Regions from separate parts of the Homo sapiens genome. Here regions 1, 3, 4 and 5 are each linked to region 2. The links come from fine-mapping of genetic effects on gene expression. A gene starts in region 2. Each other region holds a variant in brackets. All regions are shown on one strand. Distances are from middle to middle.

Evidence for each region.
Region 1: its variant is fine-mapped to the expression of CSNK1D in whole blood (TOPMed, PIP above 0.99).
Region 3: its variant is fine-mapped to the expression of CSNK1D in whole blood (TOPMed, PIP above 0.99).
Region 4: its variant is fine-mapped to the expression of CSNK1D in blood mononuclear cells (TOPMed, PIP above 0.99).
Region 5: its variant is fine-mapped to the expression of CSNK1D in whole blood (INTERVAL, PIP above 0.99).

What each region holds. Positions count from the first base shown.
Region 1 is chr17:82,239,435-82,244,525 of GRCh38, reverse strand. It overlaps SLC16A3 (solute carrier family 16 member 3), which reads right to left. Exons shown (of 5, transcript NM_004207.4): 5 at 4,440-5,091. It overlaps CSNK1D (casein kinase 1 delta), which reads left to right. Exons shown (of 9, transcript NM_001893.6): 9 at 1-1,859. Among named protein-coding and RNA genes, the nearest start is that of MIR6787, 5.3 kb to the right of the region's middle. RefSeq lists enhancers at 584-663, 4,955-5,091. The variant G/A (reference allele first, on the strand shown) is at 2,970.
Region 2 is chr17:82,271,592-82,276,690 of GRCh38, reverse strand. It overlaps CSNK1D (casein kinase 1 delta), which reads left to right and starts at 2,991. Exons shown (of 9, transcript NM_001893.6): 1 at 2,991-3,385. The coding sequence starts at 3,310. It overlaps LOC124904089 (a long non-coding RNA gene), which reads right to left and starts at 2,913. Exons shown (of 2, transcript XR_007065953.1): 1 at 1,618-2,913. RefSeq lists silencers at 2,852-3,061, 3,302-3,491, 3,542-3,591.
Region 3 is chr17:82,247,768-82,252,866 of GRCh38, reverse strand. CSNK1D (casein kinase 1 delta) reads left to right here. Exons shown (of 9, transcript NM_001893.6): 5 at 263-433; 6 at 1,340-1,488; 7 at 3,265-3,436; 8 at 3,853-3,992. Among named protein-coding and RNA genes, the nearest start is that of MIR6787, 14 kb to the right of the region's middle. RefSeq lists an enhancer at 1-566. The variant A/G (reference allele first, on the strand shown) is at 2,843.
Region 4 is chr17:82,309,900-82,314,998 of GRCh38, reverse strand. It overlaps CD7 (CD7 molecule), which reads left to right. Exons shown (of 4, transcript NM_006137.7): 4 at 1-126. Among named protein-coding and RNA genes, the nearest start is that of CD7, 5.2 kb to the left of the region's middle. RefSeq lists an enhancer at 193-780. The variant A/G (reference allele first, on the strand shown) is at 2,865.
Region 5 is chr17:82,295,903-82,301,001 of GRCh38, reverse strand. No RefSeq gene overlaps it. Among named protein-coding and RNA genes, the nearest start is that of LINC01970, 5.6 kb to the right of the region's middle. RefSeq lists enhancers at 195-264, 2,434-3,065. The variant C/T (reference allele first, on the strand shown) is at 3,020.

The DNA of each region.
Region 1 (5,091 bases), 32 kb after region 2:
GAATTGCAGAGAATCAGACTCCTTTTCCAGGGCCTCAGCTCCCTCCAGTGGTGGCCGCCCTGTACTCCCTGACGATTCCACTGTAACTACCAATCTTCTACTTGGTTAAGACAGTTTTGTATCATTTTGCTAAAAATTATTGGCTTAAATCTGTGTAAAGAAAATCTGTCTTTTTATTGTTTCTTGTCTGTTTTTGCAGTCTTACAAAAAAAATGTTGACTAAGGAATTCTGAGACAGGCTGGCTTGGAGTTAGTGTATGAGGTGGAGTCGGGCAGGGAGAAGGTGCAGGTGGATCTCAAGGGTGTGTGCTGTGTTTGTTTTGCAGTGTTTTATTGTCCGCTTTGGAGAGGAGATTTCTCATCAAAAGTCCGTGGTGTGTGTGTGTGCCCGTGTGTGGTGGGACCTCTTCAACCTGATTTTGGCGTCTCACCCTCCCTCCTCCCGTAATTGACATGCCTGCTGTCAGGAACTCTTGAGGCCCTCGGAGAGCAGTTAGGGACCGCAGGCTGCCGCGGGGCAGGGGTGCAGTGGGTGTTACCAGGCAAAGCACTGCGCGCTTCTTCCCCAGGAGGTGGGCAGGCAGCTGAGAGCTTGGAAGCAGAGGCTTTGAGACCCTAGCAGGACAATTGGGAGTCCCAGGATTCAAGGTGGAAGATGCGTTTCTGGTCCCTTGGGAGAGGACTGTGAACCGAGAGGTGGTTACTGTAGTGTTTGTTGCCTTGCTGCCTTTGCACTCAGTCCATTTTCTCAGCACTCAATGCTCCTGTGCGGATTGGCACTCCGTCTGTATGAATGCCTGTGCTTAAAACCAGGAGCGGGGCTGTCCTTGCCACGTGCCAAGACTAGCTCAGAAAAGCCGGCAGGCCAGAAGGACCCACCCTGAGGTGCCAAGGAGCAGGTGACTCTCCCAACCGGACCCAGAACCTTCACGGCCAGAAAGTAGAGTCTGCGCTGTGACCTTCTGTTGGGCGCGTGTCTGTTGGTCAGAAGTGAAGCAGCGTGCGTGGGGCCGAGTCCCACCAGAAGGCAGGTGGCCTCCGTGAGCTGGTGCTGCCCCAGGCTCCATGCTGCTGTGCCCTGAGGTTCCCAGGATGCCTTCTCGCCTCTCACTCCGCAGCACTTGGGCGGTAGCCAGTGGCCATGTGCTCCCAACCCCAATGCGCAGGGCAGTCTGTGTTCGTGGGCACTTCGGCTGGACCCCATCACGATGGACGATGTTCCCTTTGGACTCTAGGGCTTCGAAGGTGTGCACCTTGGTTCTCCCTTCTCCTCCCCAGAGTTCCCCGGATGCCATAACTGGCTGGCGTCCCAGAACACAGTTGTTCACCCCCCCACCAGCTGGCTGGCCGTCTGCCTGAGCCCATGGATGCTTTCTCAATCCTAGGCTGGTTACTGTGTAAGCGTTTTGGAGTACGGGGCCTTGAGCGGGTGGGAGCTGTGTGTTGAAGTACAGAGGGAGGTTGGGGTGGGTCAGAGCCGAGTTAAGAGATTTTCTTTGTTGCTGGACCCCTTCTTGAAGGTAGACGTCCCCCACCCGGAGAGACGTCGCGCTGTGGCCTGAAGTGGCGCAAGCTTGCTTTGTAAATATCTGTGGTCCCGATGTAGTGCCCAGAACGTTTGTGCGAGGCAGCTCTGCGCCCGGGTTCCAGCCCGAGCCTCGCCGGGTCGCGTCTTCGGAGTGCTTGTGACAGTCCTTGCCCAGTATCTAGTCCCCGTCGCCCCGTGCAGGAGACGTAGGTAGGACGTCGTGTCAGCTGTGCACTGACGGCCAGTCTCCGAGCTGTGCGTTTGTATCGCCACTGTATTTGTGTACTTTAACAATCGTGTAAATAATAAATTCATAATGACTTCTACCTTTCTTCCCTCCCCTTTCCATGTGGTCTTTATTTCATCAGCTTGAGAGTTTTCACTGTGTTGAGGTGAACTGTGTGAAAATACTTCTTTGAGATGGCTGTTTGTTCTTTCTCAGCCTGTGGGTGTCTGGGAGCTGGCAGAGCAGGAGAGCTGCCCCCTGGGCCTGCTGCCGGGCAGGGAGGGGTGGCGACTGCTCCTCGCCGTGCTGCCCCCTTGGGCTCTGTTGTGCACACAGAAGTCCACGCACTTTCTGTGTGACGGTTCTGGAGAGTCCCTGCCTTCTCGGGCGGCACCGGCAGCCGCACTCCAGCCGCCTGGGGTGAGCGCATGTCCCTTCCCCCTGCCATAGGGCCGTGGTGCTCAGGGATCCCCCTGTCGCTTGAGCTGTTGAAGCCCAGGAGCTGCCCGATGGCCCTGCACAGGCACAAGGAGATAGGGTTCCTCTTCCCCCCCCCCCCAGAGCACACAGCAGTGGCCCCTATCCAAGGCCTGCGGGGGCTGTCAGGCTGCCAGAGCAGGGAGGTCTGCACCAACTCCTAACCTGTGCTCGTGTGTGGGTGAGCTCAGCCAGGCTAGGCCGCCTCCCCTCCCAGCTCCCCTCCCACCCCCACCTCCACCCAGTACTCTCCACTCCAGGCCACTCCCTTGGCCCCTTGGCCAGGGTCACGCTGCCTAAGAGGAGGATATTTTTGTTTGTAGTGAAAAAGCACAGGGACTTCGGGTCACTTGCCTGGAGGTTGCTCTAAGAACGGTGTAGCTTTCTGAGCCCCACGTTCCGGGGCTGTCCCGCCAACTCTGCCTGTGATGCACTCCTTCCCCAACCGTGGGGATGCCCATGGCCTGGAGCTCTGCCAGCCCCTCCTGCCCAGACTTTGCCTCCTCCCAGGCCCTTCCTCTCAGCCATTCTGGCTGTGCCCTGGGCATCTGAGCTGGCTTCCGGGCCTTCCCTGTCTCCAGCCCGCCTCACGTGGTTCCCTCTTGCTGCCCCAGACTGAGACACCGTGTGGGGCCTCACTGTGGCCGTGGGTGAGGCTCAGCCCCTGCCCCGCTCACCGGCCCCAACCGGAAAACGGCAAGACCCAAGTTCCAGTTCCTGCCTGAGCTTCCCAGGCCT[G/A]CAGCTGCCCTCCTGGGGTTCCCTGCCCTGAGAGGGAGCAGGGGCTGCATGTCCTCAAGGCCTGTTCCATCTCATCTGCGGGGGCATGAGCGGACAGAGTTAGAGGGCTTGTTCTCTGAACCTGAGTCTGGCTGGGTCTGTGTCCTCAGGCATGGTTTAGACGCTGAAAAGAGCAGGCCCTCCAGGTACTGGGCAGCGCCTCCCGGGAGCTTCACCATAGACCCCTCGGAAGGCTGAGGGACGGCAGCGTCCGGGGCCACCAAGCCCTTTCTGGGTCCCCTGTGCCTCCCCCGCCACCTCCCCCGGCACAGGCCTTGCACACATCTGTTCCAGGGCTGTTCTCTGGGAAGGCCCAGGCCGGGCGGACACCTCCCTTCTCCCTCTGATCTGGGATCATGTGAAGAAGTCTGTGCGCCCTCTGCCCCCCACCCCCACCCCAAGTAGCAGTGGGTTCTGGACGGACGTGTCTCTGGTCAGGGGATCTTCACAACACGGTAGACCTGAACCACTTTTGGCACTAGAATCTGTCGCCGGGGTTGGGGGATAGCTCTGCAGCCCACGCACCAGACCTCTGCCCCCAGCTTCTTCCCAGTGGGCTCCGGGCTTCCCTTCCCTTCCCCTTCACTCCTGCCTGTCGGGTCAGAGCAGACCCACTGCCCCATGGCTTCCCTCCTTTAAAGGCACCAGCTGAGGGAGGAGGTAGTAGAACTCAGCGCCCACTCACGCCCACCCTGCGGCACAGGGACCCCAGCCCCCACACGTCCTGTGCCCCCAACCAAGCGTGGCTGCCTTCCCACATCTGGACCACTCCTGAATCACTGAGCACGGTCCCTCAGGCATGTCTGTCCGGGAGCAGCACTGCCTGGCTACTTTGTGTTGAGCCTCTGCTGTGTGCTGTGGGTGTGGGGACCAGAGTGGGGCAGACGAGGGGTGACAGTTGAGCTAGAGAGACTGCTTCCTGCCTAGGGGAGGGTGAGGGCCCGAGATACCTGGAAACAGGGTTCCAGGAGCGAGCACCCCTCACCCGGCCCATGACCTCCCTGCCAGTACCTCTGTAAGCCCAGGTCACTCCTGAGGTCAGCAGAACCAGGGACAGCCAGGTCCAGAGGCGGCAACCCCTGGGTGTGAGCAGTCCCCTGGTGGCCCTGATGTGGGGGTGCCAGCGGGGGAAGGCCATGTGTCCTCTGAGGCCCGGGCTGCCTGCTCCCCACCTCCTCGTCTGCTCCCTGCCTCCTCGTCTTTCTCCCTTCAGCTGCTGGGTGGGACTGGTGGACTCTGCCGAGACACATGGGCCTAGCTGTGCAGAGTCTGACCTTGATCCCTGCAACTGCTGGCACTGCCCGCCAGCCTGAGCCCTGCTAGAGGCCTCCACAGCCCTGAGGCTGCAGGCAGGAGCCTGGGCTGCAAGAGCTCAAGCCCAGCTGGCGCAAGGCCAGGGGCAGATGGGGACAGCTGGACCTGAGATGTGCACTTTTCGCTTGCTTTTCATTGCAGAGGAGCAGGGACATGGCATCTCTCCGGCTGCACGCGGCCCGCCAGGGCACCCGCTGCCGTCCCCAGCGCCCACGACGCACCTACTGAGGGCCCCGGCGGCCTCTGACCGGGCTCCCAGCCACGCAGGCCACTGCTGGCCACGAGGGCAGGTGGGTGTTAGGTGTCCAGGACAAGCCCAAGCGCTGGGCCGGGCTGGATGGAGGACAGGGTGCAAAGACCAGCCCTGGGCACTGACCACACCACGCACACTGCCAGCCAGGCAGAGGGGCGAAAAAGGGAAGGCAGGAGGGTCCTGTTTCTTAAACACAGCAGTGAATAAAGTGGCTTGTTCCACCTCAGCTCCCATCTAACCACCACGTAGGGGCTCCCTGGCACATTTCAGAGGCCACCCTGGCACAGCGGCCTCCAGGCACCTGCCCCGCAGCCCCCTCCATGCAGCGCCTGCCCCTGCTACGAATGCTATGCCGCTGCAGGGAAAGCTGGCGAGGACAGAGCCACGGTAGGAACAGCCAGGCCATCAGCAGACGTGCGAGTCAGGACACAGGCCACACAGCAAAACCACATACTCCTAGGAAACCGTTGGTCCTAACACTCCACCCACACGCAGGTTTATTTCCATCTTCCAGGG
Region 2 (5,099 bases):
GCGCTCCAGCCTGGGCAACAGAGCGAGACTCCATCTTAAAAAAAAAAAAAAAGGCCTGTACTTCCCTACTCCTCCAGCTCCCTCTCGCACACGGTCTGCACACACTCCAGCTGCCCTTCACCTTCTGCCATGAGTGGAGGCAGCGGCAGCAAGGCCCTCACTAGAGGCAGACGCCCGATCTTGAACTTTTGAGACCTCAGCATCGTGAGCTGTGTTAGGCTGTGGTTGCCTTGCTATAAAGAAATACTTAGGACTGGGCAATTTTAAAAGAAAAGAGGGCCGGCATGGTAGCTCATGCGTGTGATCCCAGCACTCTGGAAGGCCAAGGTGGATGGATCACTTGAGCTCAGAAGTTTGAGACCAGTCTGGGCCAGTAAGACCCCATGTCTACAAAAAATATGAAAAATTAGCCAGGTATGGTGGCGTGTGCCTGTAGTCCCAGCTACTCAGGAGGGTGAGGTGGGAGGATCACCTGAGCCCAGGAGGCAGAGGTTGCAGTGAGCCGAGATCACGCCACTGCACTCCAGCCTGGGCAACAGAGCGAGACCCTGTGTCAAAATAAATAAATAAATAAATAAATAAATAATGAAAAGAGGTTTACTTGGCTCCTGGTTCTGCAGGCTTTACAGGAGGCATGGTGCTGGCCTCTGCTCAGCTTCTGGGGAGGCCTCCGGAAGCTTCCAATCATGGTGAAAGGCAATGGGGGAGCGGGCACGTCACATGGCCAGAGCAGGAGCGAGCGAGCGAGTGAGCGAGAGAGAGAGGTGCCCCACACTTTTTAAATAACCAGATCTCAGGAGAACTCACTATCTCAAGGACAGCACCAAGGGGATGGTACTAAACATTCCTGAGAAATCCACCCCCATGACCCAGCCACCTCCAGCCTTGGGGTTTACAATTCAACATGAGGTTTAGTGTGGACAAATATACAAATTACCTCATGATTCTTCATAAATTTCCCAGCCTCAGGTGTTTCTTGATAGCAACAGTAAAGGAGCTAAGACACTGTGGCGTTCAGTTGTATCAGGACAGACCTGGGTGTGGGCTGGCCCTCATACGTCCTGCCGGGAGCTCTGGGGGCTTTCCAGTCTGCAGGTCGGGACGTCCTTCTACTCTGAGATGTTCTAGTATCATCAAACCGCCCCACAGACCATGCCTGGAGACTCTGCCTCACACATCCGTTCCCAGCGGTCACCAGCCCCGCATCCCTCCCTCGTCACCGCATCTGTGCGTCTCCTCTGTGACGGAGGCTGTTCCTTGGCAATGACTATCCTCAGCTTCAGCCCCCTGCTGACAGTTTTCTAGCTCAGAACCTGGCCATGTCTGCACCCTCCCTGTCTTCTCGGAAGGGGTGCTGTCATTCCCTGGGCTACACACCTGCTTTGTCCTCCTCTCTCTGACCCCAGGGCTCCAGGGTACCACTGTCCTCTTCCTTTGTCAGTTTGTTGTGGCTGGGGCTGGTGGTGGGGGAGCCACAGCAATCAGCCTGCCTCACCTTGCCCAGCCCGCATGTTCCCAGGGCTCCTGCCATCCCCACTACACCACAGCCCAGTCCGTGTGCACGGGTTATAGAGTCAAGACACAAACACACAAAAGCCAGGCAGACGGGCACAGTACCTGCCGCAGCTGCATGAAGCTTGGGGCACTATGGGTGAGAAGAGCTAGAAATGTTGGGGCCATCAGAGCCCAGGAGGACCAGCCGAGGGAGGAGCAGCTGACAGGTGGGCAGGTGCCCCTAGTCAGGGACAGCAGGACTCCCCAGGAAGAAGGATCACAGCCACCCGTGGGAGAGCTGGACTCTGTTCATCAACAGAAAAGCCGTGAGCGATTCCGCCAACAAGGTCAGTTTTACTAGTCTGGCAGCCCCCCACCCCCGGCTTCTGTAACTCAGAAACTGGGCAGTTCCGACTGCCCATCCCTCATTAGTGACTGATGGTGGTCTGGCCGGCGGCATCTCCTGTCTCCAGGCCCTGCTATGTAATTTCGGGAATGGACGCCCGTCTCCCCGACCTGACCTCCAGCTGTTTGGAGCTGAGGGGTGGAGAGGAAAGACTGGGGGGTGGAGAAAGGCGAGCACCACTGTGGGGCCTGTGGGGGCTGCTTTCCTCTTCTGCAGTGACCTGGACGGGCTGAGGCTGCTGTCTCACTCACACGGCGGTGCCCACACCACAGCCCTGGTATGCTAATGCGTCAAAACACACCTTCACCTGTTTCACATTCTTGAGTTTCAGCGAGGATGCGACAGGTCTCGAGACACATGGACGTGGGACCATGGGGACGGGTTCTTCAAGGTCCCCATGCACCTGCAGCCTGGGGGGGCTTGTCTGAAGGGCTTTCTTCCCAGTGATGGGAATCAAAGGCCCCGATCTTTGAAGCTGGCCATCAGCCTGAACGTCCACTCCTTGTTTCCTTTGCAAGGAGGAACATTCAGATCCAACACAGATAAGAATGTTGACTCCGTCTCCAGGCCGCAGGGACTGGAGGGAGGCAGGTGGTCTGGCCTCATTTTGTGAAAGGTGGTGGCTTTGTCCTCAATCTTCAGGCTGGACATCAGGACCTCCCAGGGCGCGGGCCTGCTCTGTCTCTGGCCTTAGGTGTCAGGAGGTAAGGCCGCAGACGCTGACGTACTGGGATGCCCCAAGCCCGGGAACTGGCAGCCCAGTGAGGGGGTCTCACCTGTGTCCCCTGAGCCTGGCCTGTCACTCTGTCCACGCCTCAGCTACCTGTCCCCTCCTGCAAAGGGCACCGCCTGTCGCGAGGAACTCACCTGGCTTCCTCGACATCTCGGGGGACACACGAAAAGCCCCCGCGAGAGCAGCAGGAGCCTGCACGTGGAAGGGGCTGGCGGCCCGAGGTCCCGGGGTAACAGGAGGGCAGAGGGGCTGGGCACGGCGCAGGGTCGGGAGGAGGCCTGGAGCGCTCGCCCCGCCCGGCCCCGCCCCTGGAGCGCCGCGGCCCCGCCCCGCCGGGTTGCTAGGGGAAGTGACGTCACAGCGCGATGGCGGCGGCTCCTTTAGGCAGCTGAAAGGGGATTTAGGCCCGGAAGATCCGAGTCCATCCGCGGCGGGGAGAGGGCAAGCGGGACCGGTAGGGGCCGGAGCAGCGGCGGCGGCGCTCGGACTGTCCCATCCGCCCCGTATTGAGGCGCTGGGAGCGGCGGGGCGACAGGAAAGCGATGGTGAAAGCGGGGCCGTGAGGGGGGCGGAGCCGGGAGCCGGACCCGCAGTAGCGGCAGCAGCGGCGCCGCCTCCCAGAGTTCAGACCCAGGAAGCGGCCGGGAGGGCAGGAGCGAATCGGGCCGCCGCCGCCATGGAGCTGAGAGTCGGGAACAGGTACCGGCTGGGCCGGAAGATCGGCAGCGGCTCCTTCGGAGACATCTATCTCGGTGAGGCCCCGCCGCCCCCGCCCGCCGCCCGAAGACCCGGGCCCTGCGGCTGCCAAGACCAAGCGCGATCGCGGAAGGAAGTGGTGGCCCCCGCGGGGTCTCCGCGCAAGTCCCGGCACCGCCGGATCGTGGCCAGAACCCAACGGCCACTAGGCTAGCGCGGCCAGGGGTGGGGAGGGCAGTGGGGAGCGGACGTGGGGGAGGGGCAGGACCAGGTCGGGGGAGCAGGGTCTGGAGAGGGGAGGGTTGGGGAAGGAGGGGATAGGGGAGCTGACCCGGGGTGGGGCATGGTCTCTGGGGAGCCGACCTGGGTAGGGGCAGGGTCGTGGGGAGCGGACTCGGGAAGGGCTGGGTGGGGCGTGGGGAGGCGGGCCTGGGGGAGGGGCAGGGCGGGGGTGGGGGCAGCGGGCCGTGGGAGGGGAGGGGGTAGGGCTGGGGCCGCGAAGCGGGCGTCGGCTTCCTCTACGCCTAAGGTCACCGCAGTAAACAAAGGCCACGCTCTTTCTTCCGCAGCCCGGTCCGGGGCTGTCTGGCTGCCCCCTCAGAGGCTGCCCCGGTGTCTTGCATTCGTGGGGGAAAATGTCAGAAAGACCCAAATGCCGTGTGGAGCGGGGGAGTGGCCCGGCTAGGAGTGGGGCTTGCCCTCCCGCTGGGGGTTCTCTCTGAACGGTTCCCCTTGGCCTTGGAGCGGTGACTGAGTGCAAATGAGCAAGGGTTAAGTTTAGGTGAATGTAGAGAAAGTCACACAGGATTAAGATGCTGGCAAGATGAGAGGCAGATGAGGTAGTTGTACTCATGAGGTGTCCTTTAGACTGTAACAGTCTCAAGGTAGATTTCAAAAACAATGGGATTAGAAGGTTTTGGGTTGTGTCATATTTACAATGGAAAAATATGCACGTGAACACAAGTGTGATGAAAGGTTGGCTTAAATCTTCAAGTTTGTAATTTTTTTTTTTTTCCTGAGACGGAGTTTCGCTCTTGTTGCCCAGGTTGGAGTGCAATGGCGTGATCTCGGCTCACCGCAACCTCTGCCTCCCAGGTTCAAGCGATTCTCCTGCCTCAGCCTCCCGAAAAGCTGGGATCACAGGCGTGCGCCACCACGCCTGGCTAATTTCGTATTTTTAGTAGAGACGGGGTTTCTTCATGTTGGTCAAGGCTGGTCTCGAACTCCGGACCTCAAGTGATCCGCCCAGTTCGGCCTCCCGAAGTGCTGGGAAGCCACCGCGCCTGGCCCAAGTTTGTAATTTTAAAGTAACTTAATTTTCCGCACTTGTTAGTGGGATTGTGCAATGCACGAGTTATTCCAAGATCCCCTGAATTTGAGGATATGTAGCCTGAGGCGGTGTGCCTGCAGAGGGGCTGCTGCAGACCTTTGAGGGGAGCTGTTTTCTGTTCCAGCAGCCCTAGCTTTGGGGTGTGTTTTAACTGGGGCACCTGTCAGCTAGGGTCAGGAATCCCCTGGGATGTCAGTAATGCCTCTGGTCATACCTTTTAGATGAAGCCACATGTGGACAGTCTCCAGTTCTCACACCCTTCCCACTTGTCACCAGAGAGAGGACTCAGGACCCGGTGGGCTGACAGCGTTAGGACGAATCCACACATATGGGTGGCTCATACTTTCGGTGCCTGGTTAACCTGCCAGGTGACCCTGTCACATGCCATATTGTTGCTTTTGAACCTGTACATATGCCTTAGTGGACTGCTGAGTAAGCAG
Region 3 (5,099 bases), 24 kb after region 2:
TGTATGGGGGCAGGCGGATGCTGGGACATTTCTGAGTCACCTGTGATGTGTTTGGGAATTTCCTTAGTATGCATGAGGGGCAGCTCTGGGTGAGAGTGATCTGGGCATGTGTGTCCGAGGTTCGTCTCCACTGGAAGTGCCAGCTGGAGTGATCTGGGCATGTGTGTCTGAGGCTAGTCTCCACTGGAACGGCCAGCCGGGTCTTTTGCTTTGACGTGAGCACGCAAGTGCCGTTCTTCACGCCTTTCCCTTTTCTTTTCAGAACAATCCCGAAGAGATGACTTGGAGTCTCTGGGCTACGTGCTAATGTACTTCAACCTGGGCTCTCTCCCCTGGCAGGGGCTGAAGGCTGCCACCAAGAGACAGAAATACGAAAGGATTAGCGAGAAGAAAATGTCCACCCCCATCGAAGTGTTGTGTAAAGGCTACCCTTGTAAGTCTCTGGAGGCCTCTTCTCAGCGGAGCTGCTCACAGGGGTTGCATATGTGTCGGGTGTGCCGAGACGGCTCAGTCTGGGTTTTGTCAGAAGAGTTGCTCACCTTCCAAAGGGGTGGTGGCAGGAAAGCGGGGCGCTTTTGTGTATGGAGGTAACAGCCTGCCCTCCTGTTCATCTTGACTTACTTGCCAAGTGCCCATCAGCGTGGGGAGTACTTGGAGGCCCTGGAGAGATGGCAGGCAAGGCAGGCCCGAGCCTCAGGGCCCCAAGTGGCTGGAAAGGGATGGACAGGCAGTGGTGGGGCCTCTCTCTGCAGTGGCTGCCCTCTCTGGCCCCCTCCAGGAGCTCGGGAGATTTCCTTTGCATTTGTAGGATTGCCCCAGGATACACACCTCAAATGAAACTAAATTGTGCTTTATGACTTCTTTTTTTTTTTTAAGACACAGTCTCACTCTGTCGCCAAGGCTAGAGTGCAGTGGCGTGATCTCGGCTCACTGCAAGCTCCGCCTCCCGGGTTCATACCATTCTCCTGCGTCAGCCTCCCCGGTAGCTGGGACTACAGGCGCCCGCCACCACGCTCTAGAACTTTTTTTTTTTTTTTTTCAGTAGAGATGGGGTTTCACTGTGTTAGCCAGGATGGTCTTGATCTCCTGACCTCGTGATCCGCCCTCCTCAGCCTCCTAGAGTGCTGGGGTGACAGGCGTGAGCCGCCGCACCCGGCCGTGACTTGAATACTTTTCGATGCTTTCTCAAGGCTTCAGGTCTTAGAAATCTGACAGGTGTTTTGCATCTGTCCTTCTCCCCTTGAGTGTGCAGCAGCAGGAGGTAGACAGCGACGTTGGCAGAGACACCTTGAGTCGCAGTTGGGTTTCATGAGTTAGCTTTGAGTTTCTTGTTTTGTAGCCGAATTTGCCACATACCTGAATTTCTGCCGTTCCTTGCGTTTTGACGACAAGCCTGACTACTCGTACCTGCGGCAGCTTTTCCGGAATCTGTTCCATCGCCAGGGCTTCTCCTATGACTACGTGTTCGACTGGAACATGCTCAAATTTGTAAGTCGCACTGCCAGCACGTTCGCTGAGTGTGGTGTGCGGGGGATGGCTTGTCAGTGAGAGGCCGGCGGCCGTCTTGTTGAGGGGCTGTACCATATAGGGAGTGTCTCTGGTTGTGAAGGGCAAGTGTGTAGTGGGCAGGACCTGGACTGAGTGGGTGTCTGCCTGCCAGAAAGGGGTGCCAAGAAGTAAGACGCCATTAGGGAACGCAGAGGGGTCCATGGAATTCCTGGGTGTGGACAGCAGGAGGCCCCTTCCCTCCCTGTCACCAAGCGGAGCTAGGGCCCAGAGCATGCCCTGGGGGCAGAGGGTGGGGGCTGGGGGTGCGCATTCCCATTCGCTGTGCCACATGGTCGTGGTGCCCACGAGATGAGTGGGGTTGGGGCCTGGTGAGGTGCTACCCGTCTAGCCTGACTGACCCTGTCATGAGCTGATTTTCCCTGTGGCTTTCTTGATGCGGTGTGAGTATGCAGTGGAGCCTCTAAAACAGGCAGCCCAGCCCTGGGTCCATGTCTGAGCTGAATTACTTTTCAGACACCGCTGTCAGAAATGAAGCTCCTGTGGAACTGTTGTGTTCCTTCATTAAAAACTTACTGTTTTGTTGTCAGTTTTAAATAGAATTTGGAGCTTTTCCAGGCAGCAGTCTGATGGAGGAGCAGAACTGCCTCTTGGGAGGGTACAAAAACGGCAGCCTTGTCCAGTAGTCGTGCAGGGGCCAGGGAGGGGCGGGGTCTCCAGATGCTGGGAGGGGTGCACTCTGTTCATCTTGACTTACTTGCCAAGTGCCCATCAGCGTGGGGAGTACTTGGAGGCCCCGGAGAGATGGCAGGCGAGGCAGGCCCGAGCCTCGGGGCCCAGGTGCCGGGAGGGGTGCACTCGGCAGGGCAGATCAGTCCCTCTGCCGGGGCTGTGCTGCCTCGGGAGGAATCAGAGCGACCCTCCTGCGGCATTAGAGTCACCCGGCCCTCAGAGCAGGCTAGGCCAGCGTTTTCCGTAAATGGCAGCATGAGGAGTCTGGGCGGTGCTGGCCGCACGGTGCTGCAGCCGCAGGTGTGTCGGTCTGTGTGTTGCCTGGTGAACGTGGCTGTGTCCAATGAGCTGTACTTGCAGGAAGAAGTGGCACCTGGGTTTGGCCCCGGGGCTGTAGTTTGCAGGCCCCTGCCGCACAGCATTGGCAGTTAGAATCTGCTTTTTCATAGGTTGCTGTCTCGGCTTAAAATCTGACCTCCCCACCCCCGTGCATCTGGATAGTGCAGCACAGATCCGGCTGCCGGCTGCTGGCCACGCCACCACACCTGCACAGGCTGTTGGAGGCTGCAGGGTCCGGACCCTGAGTGTACTCCTCGTCCGACCA[A/G]ACGCTCTCATCCCCACCCCGCTTTCCTCCCCAGCTGTCACCATTTGGGGCCTGTCTTTGGCCTCCGATGGTTCCTGTCCCTCTCCTCTTTCTGCACGTGTTAGTGAGCATGTTCACAGAGCAGCAGGGGGTAGCTGCTGCCCATTTGGAAGTTTAAGGAAGTTCTGAGCCCACAGGGAGATGCCATGGCGAGTGGGGTTTTTTCGATTGTTGGGGGAGCTGAGAGGCCTGGCTCTGACCCCTTGTGGGGATGATGCTGTCATCCCATGAGGAGAAACGTGCAGCCTGTGGGGGGCTTTGCAGGCAGTCTCGTCCCAGTGCCCTTTGGTAGGTATTTTCTCACGTGGCCGGGGCAGCCTAGGACCTAGGGTTGCTTTCTGCCAAAGCTGGTTCCATTCCGGCCTCACCTCCTGCCTCCTCAGGGTGCCAGCCGGGCCGCCGATGACGCCGAGCGGGAGCGCAGGGACCGAGAGGAGCGGCTGAGACACTCGCGGAACCCGGCTACCCGCGGCCTCCCTTCCACAGCCTCCGGCCGCCTGCGGGGGACGCAGGAAGTGGCTCCCCCCACACCCCTCACCCCTACCTCACACACGGGTGAGTGCCCCCCTCCCAGCGCTCTGGGGCTGGCTCTGGGGTGACTTCTTGTGTCTTGGGGTTGGTGGGGACAACAGGGTACTTGGTGGTGGACACTAAGTGCCCTGTGTCAGGCGATGCTCGCTCCTGAGGGTGGATGAGCCAGGCTGCCCAGGCGCCTTTAGAAATGCCGGCACCTGCTGGTGTGCGTGATTCCTCCCGCATCTCACGTTCCTCCCCTGTGAGCCCCTTGACCTCGCTCCCATGTCCCTTTGTGTCCCTCCGGCCGGATCTGAGTGTTGGTGGCCATCGGCCACAGCCAGGTCCTGACTGTCCAGGCAGCCCAGGGTCCTCTCTGGCCACAGCCTCTCATAGAAAGCCCCGAGTGAGAGGCAGCAGACGGGGGCGGCCCACTCCGTTTCTCTCCCTGTCCTCAGCTAACACCTCCCCCCGGCCCGTCTCCGGCATGGAGAGAGAGCGGAAAGTGAGTATGCGGCTGCACCGCGGGGCCCCCGTCAACATCTCCTCGTCCGACCTCACAGGCCGACAAGATACCTCTCGCATGTCCACCTCACAGGTAGGTGCAGAGCTCCCGGGCGGGCGCTGGGCCTCGGGCTACCCCGTCCGAGTCAAGAGCGGGCTGTGGTTTCTCCAGGGCTTCTTCTTTCCTTTCTTCCCCCCATTTTTGAGAGTTTTTAATCTCGCCAGGGTGTGGCGTCTTGGTTGCAGATGAGGCTTCTCGGGAGGGCCTGGGAGACATGCTGGGCCGTCATGGGGCTTGTCTCCTGGTTGCAGGTGGCCAGTCTCAGGTCTCAGGTCCCTGAGGCCAGCAAACCGTGGGGGCTTTCTCCTGCTGTTTGAGTGCCCCGCTGCCCGCAGCCGTCCCCAGGCAGCTGACACCGCTCGCCTGCTTGCGCCCCATTGTGGGTGCCCCCAGCCCGAGGGAGCCTTCCTCATTCTTCCTCATTCTTGCCACTGGCCAGGGATGGAGGCCCGTAGGGACCTCCACGGGCTTCTTGTGAGACCCTCCCTGGTGGCATGCCCTGCAACGAGGCTTTCCTTCTTTTGACGGCCTCACCTGTCTTCCCTTGGACGAGAAGTACCCTGTTGCGCAGCCCAGGCCTAGCCACGGCCACCGCCTCTTCAGCATCCTGCAGCGGTCTCTCCTCTCCTCGCTCTGGCTTTTGTTGTCTTTTGCGTTTGCTAACGTGCTCTTTGAACTAGAACAGCTTTCTCCATATGGATCCATTATATTTCTTCAAATAGTTTTCTGGGTTGTTCGCCAACAGGGGCAGGGTTAGTGGGGCAGGGCTGTTTCACCAGCAGGCATCCTGGGGGGTGCCCAGATCCCCCACGGGTCTTCCGGATGAGCAGGAACTCAGTTCAGAAATGCCCTGGAGCCTGGCTCTGGGCTTGTGGGGAGGTGTTTGTTGGGATCACAGGATGGAGCCAGGCCTGCTGCCGTGAGCGGGGCTGGGTGTAGCTGGCTAGCCAGGAACATGCCGGAGTGGGGAGCACTCTTGACCACTTGCCGTCTTTTAATGATTGGGGTTTTACTGCACGTTTCTAATTCACTAATAATTTCACTAGAAACAGACCTTTTTGTATAACTTCTTCCCAAAGAGACCAAAGATGCAGGGATTTTGGCTTCGTGGTTATTTTGACTTTGTGGTTATATGAATTG
Region 4 (5,099 bases), 38 kb before region 2:
CGGCCCTCTCCTGTCAGTGCCGGCCCACCCACCAGCAGGCCCCCAACCCCCAGGCAGCCCGGCAGAGGACGGGAGGAGACCAGTCCCCCACCCAGCCGTACCAGAAATAAAGGCTTCTGTGCTTCCTTTTCTGACTTCTGCATTTATTCCTCAGCCAGCAGGAGCCAGGGAGGGAGATGGCTGACACTTCGGACCCTCCCCAAGCCTCCGCCTGGGGCTCTGCAGCTGTGGCCTTGAAGGTGGGGAAGGGAGCACTTCCTCACCCCAGCCCTGAAAGGAGCCCTGGGGGCCTCCCACCCTTGAGAAGAAGCACATCCACCTGTCCAGGTGGAGGCCAGACCCAGGGGCCCTTCAGGAGCCTCAGGATGGCCCCCCATGCCCCCGACCCCCACTCCAGCGACACCGCCTCCCGAGGCCTCCGAGGCCGACCCCAGGGCACACCGGGACCAGCAAGCTGAGCACAAGGCTGCCTCACTCAGCAGCCTGAGCGCTTCCCCTCCCTGCCCCGTCTTACAAGGTGCCTCCTCCTCGTTCTCAGAGGCCCCGGGGGAGACCCAGCTGGACTCTCCAGACCTTCCCCAGCCAGCGCAGCTCCCATGCTGCACGTGGGGACAGGAGCCACCATTCGCCCATTCCCGGGGGAAACAGAGGCACTGGCCCTCAGCCACTGCCTGGGGAGCCGCTAGGGCGCCACACACTGCACTTCATTGCCTCCTGCGACACAGGTGGGGAGCAAAGGCGGGGCCTTATGTGCAGGCTCCTCACCCACCCCTCACACCTGCCCCTCACTCACCCCACACCCACACCTCAAGCCCTTCCTCCTGCCGCACTGGCGCGTTAACCCGGGGTCCTCCTTGTGCAGGACGCGCCCCACAGCCTCATCCAGCTGCCTCTGTGCAGGCTCTAGGCCACTGTCCTGGTGTCCAGGACTCACGTCCAGGAGCCGGCCTCTGGTCAGCACCCCTAGCTTCACATGGGCAGCCTGGGGCGGCCTCCAACCTTGAATGTGGTCTCTGTGACACCTGGAGTAGCTTCTGGGCCGAGGCCCAAGTCCTCTCCAGCCCATCCAGGCCCACCGTCAGGAGGAGAAATCAGAGTGCCCTCTCTCCCCAGGCTGCCGTCATCCCAGGCCGCCGTCATCCCAGGCCGGCAGGGTTGGGGGCTGCTAGCATCCCAGCCACGCTCAGCTGGTGGTCCACTTTGGCCACGGTGGTTTCCTCGGCCCTGCACACGGAGGACCCCCGTCAGTACGAGAGAGTGCCTGGCTGAGAAGACAGCTGCAGACCCAGAGGCTCCGGAGCCCCTGACCGCAGTCACCATCAAATCATCCATCGAGGTCACAGAGACAAAAAACTAATACAATCAACTGCACAGTGGGAACTATTAAACTCTATAAAAACACTACAAACAAAAATAAACAACAAACGTCTACAAATCAGGGTGAAATATTTGACAAGTAAATTACAAATCAAAGGTTAGTATGTTTAATTCATACACAGCCGTATCAATCCATGGGAAGAAAACACCAACTAAAAATACGCAAATTCCAAAAATGAGCGATAGACACAGGAACCATTCCCACTGCTGGGTGTCGACGCAACACCAGTTGAAATGAGGTAACCTTTCGCCAACTGGGTTTGCAAAGATGTAAATATCATTAAAATATAATGCGACCGGGTGAGGTGGCTCACACCTCTAATCCTAGCACTTTGGGAGGCCGAGGCGGGTGGATTGCCTGAGCTCAGGAGTTGGAGACCAGCCTGGGCAACATGGTGAAACCCCGTCTCTACTAAAATACAAAAAAAAAAAAAAATTAGCCGGCTGTGGTGGCGGGTGCCTGTAGTCCCAGCTACTCGGGAGGCTGAGGCAGGAGAAGTGCTTGAACCCAGGAGGCGGAGGTTGCAGTGAGCCGAGATCGCGCCACTACACACCAGCCTGGAGACAGAGTGAGACTCCGTCTCAAAACAAAAACAAAAACAAAAACAATAAAATATAATGCCCCTTTTACCTGGAAATTCCACTTCTATAAAAGTTTCTTTGGGAAATTATCTTTAGGCACAGAAACAAGTTTAGAGGTATAGTGATATTCATTGCAATGTAACTTTCAATTAAAAAATTAACAACTGAAGCCGGGTATCGTGGTGTGCACCTGTGGTCCAGCTACTTGGGAGGCCAAGGTGTGAGGATCACTTGAGCCCAGGAGTTTGAGGCTGCAGTGAGCTGTGACTGTGTCACTGCACTCCAGCCTGGGTGGCAGAGCAAGACCCCATCTTTATCTTTATCTTTTATATATATATATATATATATTTTTTTTTTTGAGGTGGAGTCACCAGGCTGGAGTGCAGTGGTGCGATCTCAGCTCGCTGCAACCTCCCACTCCCTGGTTCAAGCGATTATCCTGCCCCAGCCTCCTGGGTAGCTGGGACTACAGGCGCCCGCCACCACGCCCGGCTAATTTTTTGTATGTTTAGTAGAGACGGGGTTTCACCATGTTGACCAGGATGGTCTCGATCTCCTGACCTCGTGAGTATTTTTATTTTTTATGTTTTAATATTTATTTTAATTTTTAAATAGAGACAGGGTTTTGCCATGTTGCTCAGGCTGGTCTCAAACTCCTGGGCTCAAGCAATCTGCCCGCCTTGGCCTCCCAAAGTGCTGCTGGGATTACAGATGTGAGCCACCGTACCCAGCTGAGACCCTATCTTAAAAATATATATAACAACTAAGGAAGGATGTAAGTCTCCAAGCAGGATAATTTTGTTACAGTGATTATGGCACATGCAGCGTGTGTTAAAAGGGCACCATGGGCCGGGCGCGGTGGCTCACGCCTGTCATCCCAGCACTTTGGGAGGCTGAGGCGGGTG[A/G]ACCACTTAAGGTCAGGAGTTCGAGACCAGCCTGGCATCATGGTGAAACCCCGTCTCCAGTAAAAATACAAACACTAGCCAGGCATGGTGGCGGGTGCCTGTAATCCCAGTTACTCAGGTGGCTGAGGCAGGAGAATTGCTTGAATCCGGGAGGCGGAGGTTGTAGTGAGCTGAGATCACGCCACTGCACTCCAACCTGGGCGACAAGGCGAGACTACATATCAAAATAATAATAATAATAATACTTAAAAAATAAAAGGGCACCATGGAAAAATCTGTGACTTCACCCTAGGACCTTCACACGACCCCGTGAAGCCACACAGACGGCTGCAGAATAGACGTATGAGGCACATTTGTTACAATATAGATGGTGGACGTGTTGCTTACAGGGATGCATTCTGAGAAACGCATCGCTAGGCAGTGTCATCATTGTGTGACTGTCACCGAGTGTGCTTGCGTGACCTAGACTTAGAGCCCAGGGCACACCCAGGCTTCCTGGTGGAGCTGCTGTCATCGTATGGGACCATCGTGGCATGTGCCGCCCGTCGTTGACCAAAACGTCTTTTTTTTTTTTTTTGTATTTTTAGTAGAGACGGGGTTTCACCGTGTTAGCTGGGATGGTCTCGATCTGCTGACCTTGTGATCCACCCGCCTCGGCCTCCCAAAGTGCTGGGACCCCAGGCGTGAGCCACTGCTCCCGGCTGACCAAAACATCTTTATGCTGAGCATGGCTACACCTGTATGTATGTTTATTTCTGCATGACTGAAATAATGGAATAGACTTACGAGGTGCTAACAACGGTTCTCTCTGGGTGATGAGCTGTGGGTTTAGTTCCTTCTTTCTCGTACTTTCTCAGGACTTGTATTTGACAATGGCGTGTTAGCCGGGGCAGGGAGTCGCCAGCCACGACGGGCTTGGCATTCCAGGACACGCTCCCCCAGTTCTCACGGGTTCCCAGGGCTGCAGTCAGCAGTGTCACACTGTCCCCAGGCCCTCATGGTGGCCTCTGCGGTGTCCACGGCCGCTGCTGCTCTCGCTGAACCTGATGCTCGGGCCCTCGGCACCAGGAGACCACCAAACTCTTCTGTAAACATGGATAAGTCACTAAGGTACCCGCATGTGGGGAGCCCCTGGGACCTGTTCACCAGCAGCTGCGTGCCCGCCCGGCTCATGCTGGTTCCCGTGCGTCCAGCACTGACGGGTGGGACCCAGACAGTGACCAGGGAAAAGCTAAGGGGACGCAGGGATAAGGGGCTGGGGCTCGAGGTTCCAAGAACCCAGGCGCTCCACACAGGGGACCTCCGCCAATACGAGAGACAGCCCGGTGGCCTTGGACAAGTCACTGCCCTTCTGGGCCTTCCTTTGCCATCTGTAAATGAGGGAGGTGGGTTTGTGCTCTCCTCAACGGCAGGACTGTGCTTTCCAGGCCGTGCTGGCCAACCTGCCCACACCCTGACCCTCAGCTCCCACCAGAGTGCTGTCTCCACGTCCCCTGTCCTCTTGTCCCTGATAAGCAGAGAGCACCACGAGCCCATCGGCAGAGCTCCTGTCATCTGAGGCATCCCCGGCAGCCTGACCCCACCCCAGGGACCAGAGGCCATGCAGGGACAGGCTGTGCTCCCCAAGGTCCTTCTCCTCTCCCTTAATCCTCTCCGTGCTCAGGGCTGTGCTCCCTGAGATCTTCCTCTCCCTTAATCCCCTTCATGCTTGGGGCCGTGCTCCGCAAGGTCCTCCTCCCCTCCTCATCTCCTCCATGCTCAGAACCGTGCTCCCCGAGGTCCTCCTCTTCCTTAATCCCCTTTGTGCTCAGGCCCGTGCTCCCCAAGATTCTCCTCCCCTCCTCCTGATTCCATCCAGCCTCCACCGCTCATCTCAATGCCCATAATCGTCTCTCCACTTCTCTGTCCACAGCCAGACTGAAAGGACCTGGAGGACAGGGAGGGTCCTTCATAGTGTGTCCCCACCCCCACCCAGGCTCAGGTGTAGAGGGCCCCTGACTGAGCATGCTGTGTCCTGGGCGTGTCGGGTCAATGTGCACACCGGTCGAATTCTCGTGACAAAGAGCATGCACTCTGCCTGAGTCCTGTTTCCCCCACCGTCTATTTCCAGGACTGAGCCTCTCCGGGCTTGGTTTTCTTATTCGTAAAATGGGGACAAGACAATACTTGTCAGAGCAAACGCTCCCCAACTGTACAGGCTTGGCTGGACACCACAGGACACAGAAAGTAAAGCCC
Region 5 (5,099 bases), 24 kb before region 2:
CTGGCCCCAGCCGAGAAGGACTGCCTGCCCTCTGGTGGCGGGACGGGGCGTGGGTGGGAGACCGCCTGCCAGCGCTTCCTGGCCTGGAAGGGAGTTGGGCTAACAGGTGGGGAAACTGAGGCCCAGAGGTAGCAGAGACTTTTGACAAGAGATGGAGCCCCCCTCCCCGCCAGGGCACCTCAAGGTGAATTCCCAGTCGGCTGGGCAGTCATGGACCAATGGGAAGGTCCCCCCAGGGCTGTCGCCCTCTCACAGAGAAATGTACATCCCACACGTTCTGCATGCTTTGGGGAGAGTCCAGGGTTAGGAAGCCCAGAGTATGGGATTTGTTTTTTTTTTGAGATGGAGTCTCGCTCTGTCGCCAGGCTGGACTGCAATGGCATGATCTCAGCTCACTGAAACCTCTGACTCCCTGGTTCAAGCGAGTCTCCTGCCTCAGCCTTCCGAGTAGCTGGGATTACAGGCACGCGCCACCACACCCAGCTACATTTTGTATTTTTAGTAGAGACAGGGTTTCACCACGTCGGCCAGGATGGTCTTGATCTGACCTCGTGGTCCGCCTGCCTCGGCCTCCCAAAGTGGGATTACAGGTGTGAGCCACCGTACCCGGCCCAGAGTATGGGACTTTAAGAGCCAGCCTGAGAGCTGGGGTTTGTTGGGAGCAGCAGGGCTCACACCCCAAAGTCAGCGGTGTGTGGAACTTCAGGGGACAGTGGGCAAGCAGCCCATCTTCTCAGCACACAGAGAGGTCCCGAAGCCAGTAAGGAAGAGAAGAATGCACGGTCCGGTCTCAAACAAGATAACAGCTTAGATACATGTGAAAATGCCCAACTGCACTCACTGTTACAGAAATGCAAAGTGCAATTTGCACCCATGAAATTGTAAGCTTCAAAAATCCGTAGTCCAGTATTGGCGACAGCTTGGGAACACAGACGGTCTCCTGCACCAGGTTTTGTTCACAGAATAGAAGAGGAATGCACACAACACAAGAAGAGAATAGCAACCTGGCCAGCGCAGGACTCAGCCTGTAACCCCAGCACTGTGGGAGGCCGAGGTTCAAGACCAGCCTGGCCAACATGGCGAAACCCCGTCTCTACTAAAAATACAAAAATTCACTGGGCGTGGTGGCAAGTGCCTGTAATCCCAGCTACTCAGGAGGCTGAGGCAAGGAGAATTGCTTGAACCCAGGAGGCAGAGGTTGCAGCGAGCTGAGATCGCACCACTGCACTCCAGCCTGTGTGGCAGAGTGAGACTCCGCCTCAAAAAAAAAAAAAGAAAAGAAAAGAAAAGAAAAGGAAAATAGCAACCCACCAGAAAAGTGGGAGGTGCCTGAGGAGATGCAGAGGCCGGGACTCAGGCGTGCCCCTCACCGTGTCGGGGACCTCGCAGCCTCAGAGCCTGGCCACCCATTGGTCCCTCGAAGGAGAAAGACCTGACCTTGGTCCCATAGTCCAGCCCCTTCCACCTCTTGAATTTTTACCATGGACCTCGGGCCTCTTCTGGGTTTGTTGGTTGGTTGGTTTTGTTTTACTGAGTTACTCCTGGAAGGCTGGCAGGAAGTTAGGCATTCACTTGGTTCTTTCCACAGCAATTGTGGGGACTTTATGTGCCCGGCCCAGGCTCAGTGTTGGAGATGGGGCCCAAATCCCTGCCCCGCTGCCCTCCCGCCGGCCTGCCCTGTGACCTCCAGCTCCCACGTGGCTTCCCAGATGCTCCTCAGCCAGCCCCACAGTCGCAGAAGGCCAAGGCCCCTTAAATCCCCCATTTTATAGAAACCTGTAGGTGCCCCCTAGAGCTTCTGCTGCTCTGAACCCACCCTGGTGCATGGCGTGTCCCTGCATCACGTGTGCCCACCTGCCTCCTCAGATGCAATTCTGACATCTTCAGACGCAATTCTGACATCTTCATGACCCCACATTCAACTCCCTGCAGGGCCCGAGGCCACCGTCCAGTGAGGGGCATGCCCTGGGTCCCGTCCTCTGGGACTTTACCAACATTCGGTCACTGTGGATGCCTGGAGCTCCAGGGCTTTTGCCAACAGAGTGGAGAGCTCCTCCTTCTGAACACGGTCTCCAGTCCCATCTCCCAGACCTCCGGCTTGTCACCCCAGGCCCTTCGGGAGTGAAAATCACGACCCTGCCCACTGGGCCCGTCTGCAAGGCTTAAGCCAGCGTTCTGCAGGTGGACAGTGGCTGTCCCATTTCCCGGAGCTCCCTGGGCCCCCTGCCGCCCCCCTGGAGCCCTGGTCTGGCTGTTGGCAGCCTCCCCTTCTCCTCTGCTGCCTTGGAAGGTGTGGGAGCCTCTGCGGGGTCCCGCCTCTCCCTCATGCCACACTCTCCCCTCTGTGCCCTTGCTCAGCCCCAAGTTCCCTGGCCACATCGCAGGTGGCAGGCGCTGACATTGCCTCTGCCAGCCCCAGAGCCCGGCCCCGGGCACCTCTACCACCTACAGGGTCCTCAACTGTAGCTCTGACCCTGGAGGACTGTGGAAGGCTGCTCTGGCTAGAGTGACCCGCCAGGTCCAGGGATATCCTGTGGGGACAGGGAGGAGCTTGGAGCTGGGCGAGGGGGCGCCGTCCTCAGGAAGGTTGCCCAGCCGCTCGCTGCAGCTCTGAGGTTTGGCAAAGGTTCCACTCTGCCGAGCTGGTGTTTGTGTGATCATTTCCTTGCAATGACGTGGGTTCCACTGCTCACAGTCCCCAGGGCATGTCATCCCTCCCAGCCCACAACTTCCGGGTAGACGGTGCCGGGGGTTTACTGAAGGAGACAATCGGGGTGTTGGATGGAAACCTGCCCCTCAGGGCAAGCATCTGGGGTGGGGACACAGCACACGCAGCCTCCAGCAAACACGAGGGGCCGGAAGGGGCTCAGGCCCAAGTGCGCCCTCACCAGACCCGCTCCCCACACGCACGCACACAAGCTTCCTGCACACACACGCTCCCGCACCACACGCCCGCCTCAGCCCTGCGTGACTGTCCCCCAGCCTCGCCCCTCCCGGCCGGCCGTTCCTGTTCCAGCGC[C/T]TCCTCCTCCTCCCCAGCCTCGCTGGCTCTTGCTCAGCCCTTCTGGCCTCCGTCCAGGAGGAACCTGGGGCCAGGCGCTTCCCGCACCCAGCACAGCAGCTCTCACCTCACTGTACCGGGAACCGGAGATGAGTCTCTGTTTTCTGTTTCGTCAGCTTATGAGTAATTTATAAATGTAAAAACAAGGACAATAAGAAAAACCTTTATTAACATGTTTAATATGAACATAAGCAAAGAAAACCTCCTTGTACCTGTGGCCAGTAAGTTTGCAAGCACAGACATCTTAAGCAAAGAAGAAAGCCCTTCTGCTCACGTGAGTTGTGGTCCAGGGGCTGGTCACAAAATAGCGCGTGATGACATCCTTCCTGCCACCGACTGCAGGAGAAATCCACCGTCCGCTCGCTCACCGATCACCCACAGGACATTGTGTTCCCCCACCGCTGGCGTCACCGGCCGCGGGCTCCTGGCTCCGTCTGACTCATCTTCTCCCACCAGGTTTCTTTTTGCCACTGTGGGCAGCAGTTGGAAGATCCTGAGCTCTCGGCTGTGTTCTCATTCCACCTCGAAGAGGATGCAGGACCCAGGGCAGCTTGCGGCAAAGCTGCAGGGTGGCACGGTGTTGGGCCATCCTTCCGGATGCCCAATCTTAGGATTGCAGTCACTGTGGCATAGCTGGGAGCCATGGATGGGTGATAATTCCATGGATAATTCCAGGATGATGGACTAGCAGACATCTCATGATAGGAAAGATAAGACCACTGGGATACATAAGTCATATGTTTTACAGGTTTATGAGAAGTTTATCTGCCTGACAAGATGGGTTGATTTGTGCATCTTAGGTCAGGATAGGATGCGTTTTACTCTATTACAAAAGCAAAAGTAACTTTGTGTTCTCTTTGCACTTTGGAAGACCCATAAGAATATTAAACTCATGAGCTGCCAATCCTTATAACATAACTGCTCCAAAAAGCCATTCTAAAACTAGCTTCATGGGGCGCTGGGGGAAGGCGGGAAGGGAAGGAAGGATGGGAGGAGGAAGAGGAGGCTGAGGGGGGTGGAGAGGAGGGAGGGAGGGGCAGCCAGCAGCTGGCAGGTGGTTGGGAGCTCAGGTTCCGGGGCTTCCAGGCATCATGCAAGCTAATGTTTACATCCCCAGGCAGAAATCAGAATATAGGCTCTTTTCATATGTAACATTTCATTTGGCCTATTTGACAGAACGTTAAATAAAATGTCCACTAAACCTCATCACTACTGAGTTGCTAATACTCTCCTTGCAACATGACTGAAACCAGCAGTGCAGGGAGCTGCCCAGAACCAGGAGACCAGAAAGCCATCCTTAGCAACGTCATCTGCAACGCAATTTAAGTGGTGCCTTTTAGACCAACTGCACTGTTGGTATTTTACCCAAGGTTTTGGGGCACAGAGGTATTGGAAGATTCCTTTTCTGGATCATAAGCCACTTCAAAAACCCTCCTGTAATAGTTCATTTCCAATGAAATGCCATTAGGGCAGCATTAGTCACTGCAATCAAGGTACGGAACTCGCCTAAGTGTCCGTCAACGAATGAATGGATAACGAAGAATGCCGGGTCTGTCCCGCAGATCCTGGCCGACGGGTGAAATGAGTACTCAGACACAGGTATGCAGTGTAAGACCAGCTAGGGGGCTGCCTGGCTCTAGTGGCCAGAGAACAGCCTGGAGAAGCTGGAGCTGCTTGCTTTTTTTTTTTTTTTTTGAGATGGAGTCTCGCTCTGTCACCCAGGCTGGAGTGCAGTGGCACAATCTCGGCTCACTGCAAGCTCCGCCTTCCGGGTTCACGCCATTCTCCTGGCTCAGCCTCCCGAGTAGCTGGGACTACAGGTGCCCGCCACCACGCCCAGCTAATTCTTTTGTATTTTAGGTAGAGATGGGCTTTCACCGTGTTAGCCAGGATGGTCTCGAACTCCTGACCTCATGATCCGCCCGCCTCAGCCTCCCAAAGTGCTGGGATTACAGGCGTGAGCCACCGCGCCCGGCCACTGTCTGCTTTTACTCAGTGCAGGCACAATGCCGAAAACCTGGAGCCCACACAACCTGTAGGT